2 separate regions of the Homo sapiens genome follow, and region 1 is linked to region 2. The links come from fine-mapping of genetic effects on gene expression. A gene starts in region 2. The other region holds a variant in brackets. All regions are shown on one strand. Distances are between the middles of the regions. Region 1 has its middle 11 kb from the start of ITGAM. Region 2 holds the start of PYCARD (PYD and CARD domain containing).

Region 1 (2,905 bases), 46 kb after region 2:
GCAGCCTTGAACTCCTAAGCTCAAGCCATCCTCCTGCCCTTGACCCTCCAAGTAGCTGGCACTACAGGCATGACATACATCTATTAATGCTACCTTATTAGCTGTGTCGTTCACATCAACCAGTTAATTTGCATGTCTATAACTACATCTGAATTTGTGCGCGCTCTCTCTCTTTTTTTTTTTTTTTTTTTACGGAGTCTTGCTTTGTCCCCCAGGCTGGAGTGCAGTGACATGATCTCAGCTCACTGCAACCTCCGCCTTCTGGGTTCAAGTGATTCTCCTGCCTCAGCCTCCCGAGTAGCTGGGACTACAGGTGCTCGCCACCATGCCCGGCTAATTTTTGTATTTTTTAGTAGAGATGGGGTTTCACCATGTTGGCCAGGATGGTCTTGATCTCTTGATCTTGTGATCCGCCCGCCTTGGCGTCCCAAAGTGCTGGGATTACAGGCGTGAGCCACCGCACCCCGCCAGCATTCTTTGTCTTGTCCACAGCTGAAGTTTCCATTATTTATTTATTCAACCAAACTTCATCAAACTCCTTTTTAATGTAGCACATACCATGCTCAGTCTTAGGCGTATGCATTTGGATAATTCAAAATTGTTGCCTTCAAAAAGCTATAGTGAGAGAAATAACCTCATAAACAATAAGATCACAGTGTGAGGACTGCTAATAGAGCTGTGTGTAACAGAGCTTGGGGTTAAGCAGGAAAATTAGGGCAGGCTTCTCAGAAGAGGTGACAACTTGAGTTGGCCCTTGGAGAGCAAGTAGGAGTTTCTAAGGAAAACAAAAAGAAGCAGAAGGATGGTATTCCAGACACACCCAATAGTCAATTGTACTATTAGTTTGATGCAAACGTAATTGCGGTTTTGGCCATGACTTTAATTACTTTAGTTACATTTGCACCCACCTAATAATTATCTGAAACTGCATGACAAATGACCCTAAGCTTAGAGGCTTAAAACAACAGTAATCATTTCTTATCTCCCTTGATTTCTTTTCTTAAATTTAAAAAAATTTTTGGCCGGGTGCAGTGGCTCACATCTGTAATCCCAGCACCACAGTAGCAAAAATAGCTGCAGTGGTTCCAGGTTTTACATCACACTAGGAGGAGAAAAAACATCTTTGTCCTGAGATCCACTTTGATTAGACACATGCCCACACTTGAACCAACGACTTATGTCAGAGCGATAGAATAGTTGGATTGTCTTAGTGTAGTTCACATGCTCCACCCTCAGACCTGGGGCAAAGTCAGTTCTTCCCAAACCACGTAGTCCTCCAAGTGGAAATTGAGAGTCGCTGGGAAGGGGGAAACTGGATGCTGGGGAGATAACCACAAGTGTCCACACAAACTCAATTGTGATGTGGTTCATCTAAGCAACACTCAGTGAGCCCCAGCCAGATAAGGTGCTGGGTCCTGGGATAAAGCCATGAGCAGGACATAGTCACTGCTCTCAAGGCAGCCATTGTTTATCACCCCCCAAGAA[C/T]GTAAGCTCCTTAAAGGTAGGGAGGTTTCCTCTCTCGTTCACATCCATTTCCCTGAGCCTGGAGCAGCACCTGGCACATAGTTAATACCTGTTGAATGAAGAGTCTAGTGGAAAGATGGGCATAATCTCCAAGTCATCACACCATATACAGTTTAATGCTAGCTCTAGGGACTTTGAGGGGCCAGGGTGTGTGATCCACCCTTTTACTTCTCCTCCTTTTTCTCTTCCTTCTGTTTGTGGCTCCCCCAGGGTGAGAGATTGAGAGGAAAGAATTGAAGGGATGGCAGGGGTTCCACATGACTGGTACCCATATGTGGTTGGAAATGCCCTGACTCTCTCTAGACTCCAAGCTGGGTCCATCTCTTGCTTGTGGTCCCCAGTAGCTGAAGTACAGCTGAGGTGTTCCTGGGGTTGCTATTTAGCTTAACCATGGCTCTCTCCTCTGCTGAGGAGCCCCTTGGAGTGAGAGATGCCTGCCTCCCCTCAGGGCTTTGCCTCCACCCTTTCTCCAACCTCTGTATTCCTTCATGTGGAACCAGGAAGCCCCCCTCTCCCTCAATTTCCCACTTTATTTAAGGCACATAAAACTTTTCTGGAGGAAAGCTCTTGTTGAATCTGCAGCCTCTCCCCAAACCCCAAGGCCTGTAAAGCTCTGAATAGAGAGGCCCTGAGCTGAATGTGACAGTAATGATACTTATATCAGGTCAAGGATGCCTAAGGACCATAGTTACTTTGTCAAATTGTACAAGATGTTTCATCCAGAGCGTGCTTAGAGTAATGATAATGATATGTGGCAGAGAGAGCTAGTTGCCCCCATGTGCTTTCCTCTTCTTCCTTTAGTAATGCAACCCCATTAATTAGCACACAGATACTTAGGATAACATCACATTTTCCAGTCACCACTGCAGTTGTGTGTGGCCATGTGACTAAGTCCTGGCCAATGAGATGTGAAGGAAATGATGTGTGCAACATTTGGTCTCACCTTTAAAGGAAAGGGGCCTTCCCACCATTTTTTTTCTTTGTTATGAGACAGAGTCTCACTCTGTCACCCAGGCTGGAGTGCAGTGGCATGCTCTTGGCTCACTGCAACCTCCACCTTCCAGGTTCAAGCGATTCTCCTGCCTCAGCCTCCCAAGGAGCTGGGACTATAAGCGCCCGCCACAATGGCTGGCTAATTTTTGTATTTTTAGTAAAGGCGGGGTTTCACCATGTTTGCCAGGCTGGTCTCGAACTCCTGACCTCATGTGAACCCACTTCGGCCTCCCAAAATGCTGGGATTACAGGTGTGAGCCACTGTGCCTGGCTTTTTTTTTTTTTGATACAGATTCTTGCTCTGTTACCCAGGCTGGAGTAAAGTGGTGCAATCTTGACTCACTGCAGCCTTGACCTCCCAGGCTCAGGTGATCCTCCCACCTAAGCC
Region 2 (2,905 bases):
AGGGAGCCTTTAAGCCTGTTAAGAGCCAGCACCAGAAGGAGCCCTCGAGCAATTTGGTGACTTGTGCTCTTCTGTCCTATGTTTAGATAATGCTCTAATGTGTCTCCCCCTGCAAATTTCTCTAATTCTGCATTTTTCTCCAGTGGAAAATGTGGAAGGTAGGGGAGCTATGAAGACTAGTGTGTTTCTAAATGGCTTGGACAGAGCTGCCCACCAGTTTGCGCCCTTTGGTACATGCCTCTTTTAACCTTCGGACCTGGGTCACAGGCTGTTATCTATAATGGTAAGGTTAGACCCTTTAGGGAGCACTGGAGGAGCACCACCTGGTGAATGAGGAGGGATATTCCATGGCGATACCAGGAAGGATGGGGGAAGCATTTGGGGTGCCAGAGACCCTAGGGACATGGAGCTGGAGGCTGGGTGGCCTCTGAAGCATAGCTGAGCTCTGCACATGCCAGCAGGCTAGAAGCAGGAAAACACACAAGTTCAAGCTGGCTTTTCGTATATTGTGTATAAAAAGATCAGATTCAGGATGATTTGGTGGGATTGCCAGGGGCTGACCGGAGTGTTGCTGGGAAGGAGCCTCAGCTCCGCTCCAGGTCCTCCACCAGGTAGGACTGGGACTCCCTTAGGGCCTGGAGGAGCAAGTCCTTGCAGGTCCAGTTCCAGGCTGGTGTGAAACTGAAGAGCTTCCGCATCTTGCTTGGGTTGGTGGGCTCGGCCCGCACTGCCTGGTACTGCTCATCCGTCAGGACCTTCCCGTACAGAGCATCCAGCAGCCACTCAACGTTTGTGACCCTCGCGATAAGCGCAGCCCGGTGCTGGTCTATAAAGTGCAGGCCTGGGGGTGGGAGGAGAACATGAGCCAGCAGCCAGGGTGTGGGGCCTGTCCCTGCTGAACTTGAGTTCTTCAGGAATTCCTCTGCAAGCCTAGGGGCAGGGCTCCAGGGGGCGGCCACCAGGACCCCACATGCAGTGGGATGAGGGTAATATTGTCTCCCTTCCCCCGCAGGGTGTGGGTTGGTGGGTGGGGTGCGCAGGGTTGCCAAGCCGTGCCTGCCCTGCCCTGCCCTGCCCTGGTTGCGGGAGCACAGATGCAGGCTGTGCAGGAGTGCGGTGGGGCCGGGCTGGGTGTGGAGGCCTCACCTGGCTTGGCTGCCGACTGAGGAGGGGCCTGGATCCCAGCTGGCGCGGCTCCAGAGCCTGGAAGGATATGGGCCAAGTGATCCCCTTCCCTTCCCTTCCCGCCGTGGGGCCGGGGTCCCGTTGGTCGGTAGGCCAAGCGTGGGGAGCCTCCTTTCCGGTAGAGCAGCTTTGTTTAGGGGTAGGAGGAACAGAAAGCGGAAGAGCCCGCGGGGTAAGCGCTGGTGTGGGTGGAGGGGAAAGACGGGGTGGAGGGGAACGGGGGCGGCTCACCCTGGTGCGTGGCCGCCTGCAGCTGCCCGGCCATCTCCTGCAGGCCCATGTCGCGCAGCACGTTAGCGGTGAGCTCGGCGCCGTAGGTCTCCAGGTAGAAGCTGACCAGCTTGTCGGTGAGGTCCAAGGCGTCCATGGACAGCAGCGCGCCCCGCGGGATGCGCCCGTAGCCCTCGCGCAGCGGCACCGACAGCAGCTTCAGCTTGAACTTCTTGAGCTCCTCGGCGGTCAGGTTCTCCAGCGCATCCAGGATGGCGTCGCGCGCGCGCCCCATGGCTCCAGGATCCCCGGCCGCTGCCGCCGCTCACCCCGCTGCAGCCGCCGACCAGGAGGAAGTCGGCTCCGGGGCGGAACCTGGACTCCCCGCCTTCCTCCCACTCTGGTCTCCCGACTCCCCGCCCCGGTCCGTTGCCCTCCAGCAAAAGGCGCTTCCTTACTACACCCTTGGTCCCCTCCCACCCAGGCCTCTGGATTGGGGCCCCAGGCCGTCGGGGGACGCCAGGATCGCGCCCTCCAGCTGGCCTGCGAGGTGGGACCCGGGAGGGGGCCGCAGAGGGGCTCATGGGTGGCGCCTGCTTGTCTCTGGGCTTGCACCAGCGGGTACAGACCGGAAACCTGGGCTGGCTCTCACTGGGTTTATTGGAGCACCTAGGCTTAGAACCTCGGATTTCTAGAACCCCGAAACCTCCGCGGTTCCCCGAACCTTAGGATCCTCTCCCACATGTCGTAGAATCTTGGAATCATGACAGCTAGAAGCGTGAAGCTCCCTCAATTCCACATACTGGGGAAAAATGAGTTGTACAAAAGGGCAGAGAGTGCAAATCTCTCTGAGCTTCAGTTTCATTTTCTACGACATGGGGATAACCCTCCGGTGCTTATAAATATTCCAGCATAACATGGCCAACCCGATGGCTCCCGAAACCTTGCCAGATGCTTCCTAGGGGAGCCAGAATTTGATCCCAACACTGATTAAAAAAAAGAAAAAAGAAAGAGAGACAGCCTCCAGGAGATTAAAGACCATGAACTTGAAGCCATACAGTTCTTTGTTTGAATCCTGACTCTACTTCCCAAGGGGGATATTTGGAATCCTTTATTTTTCCCTCTCATCTGGGTTGTAACAATCACTGTTCCTTGTAGTCATACGACCCTGACATATTATACGTTTATATGCTTATTGGACATTCATCCCTCTCTAAAATGTGAGGCCTATGAGCATCGGAGACCTTAACTGTCTTATTCTTTGCTGAATTCCTAGCGTCAAGAATGTACCTGGAAATAGCTGTGTGTGGTGGAGGGCGCCTGTAATCCTAGCTACTAGGGCGGCTGAGGCATGAGAATCGCTTGAACCTCGGAGGCAGAGGCTACAGTGAGCCAAGATTGCACCACTGCACTCCAGCCTGGGTGACAGAGCTAGATTCCATCTGAAAAAAAAAAATGTATCTGGAACACATTAGGTGCTGAGTAAAGATTTGCTGAGTGAAGGAATGAA

The links.
Region 1: its variant is fine-mapped to the expression of PYCARD in whole blood (TOPMed, PIP above 0.99).

What each region holds. Positions count from the first base shown.
Region 1 is chr16:31,247,341-31,250,245 of GRCh38, forward strand. No RefSeq gene overlaps it. Among named protein-coding and RNA genes, the nearest start is that of ITGAM, 11 kb to the right of the region's middle. The variant C/T (reference allele first, on the strand shown) is at 1,486.
Region 2 is chr16:31,201,001-31,203,905 of GRCh38, forward strand. PYCARD (PYD and CARD domain containing) reads right to left here and starts at 1,760. Exons shown (of 3, transcript NM_013258.5): 1 at 1,417-1,760; 2 at 1,147-1,203; 3 at 486-841. The coding sequence starts at 1,690. The coding sequence ends at 585. It overlaps PYCARD-AS1 (PYCARD antisense RNA 1), which reads left to right and starts at 885. Exons shown (of 2, transcript NR_102400.1): 1 at 885-986; 2 at 1,460-2,452. RefSeq lists enhancers at 591-1,221, 1,411-1,640 and a silencer at 1,751-2,110.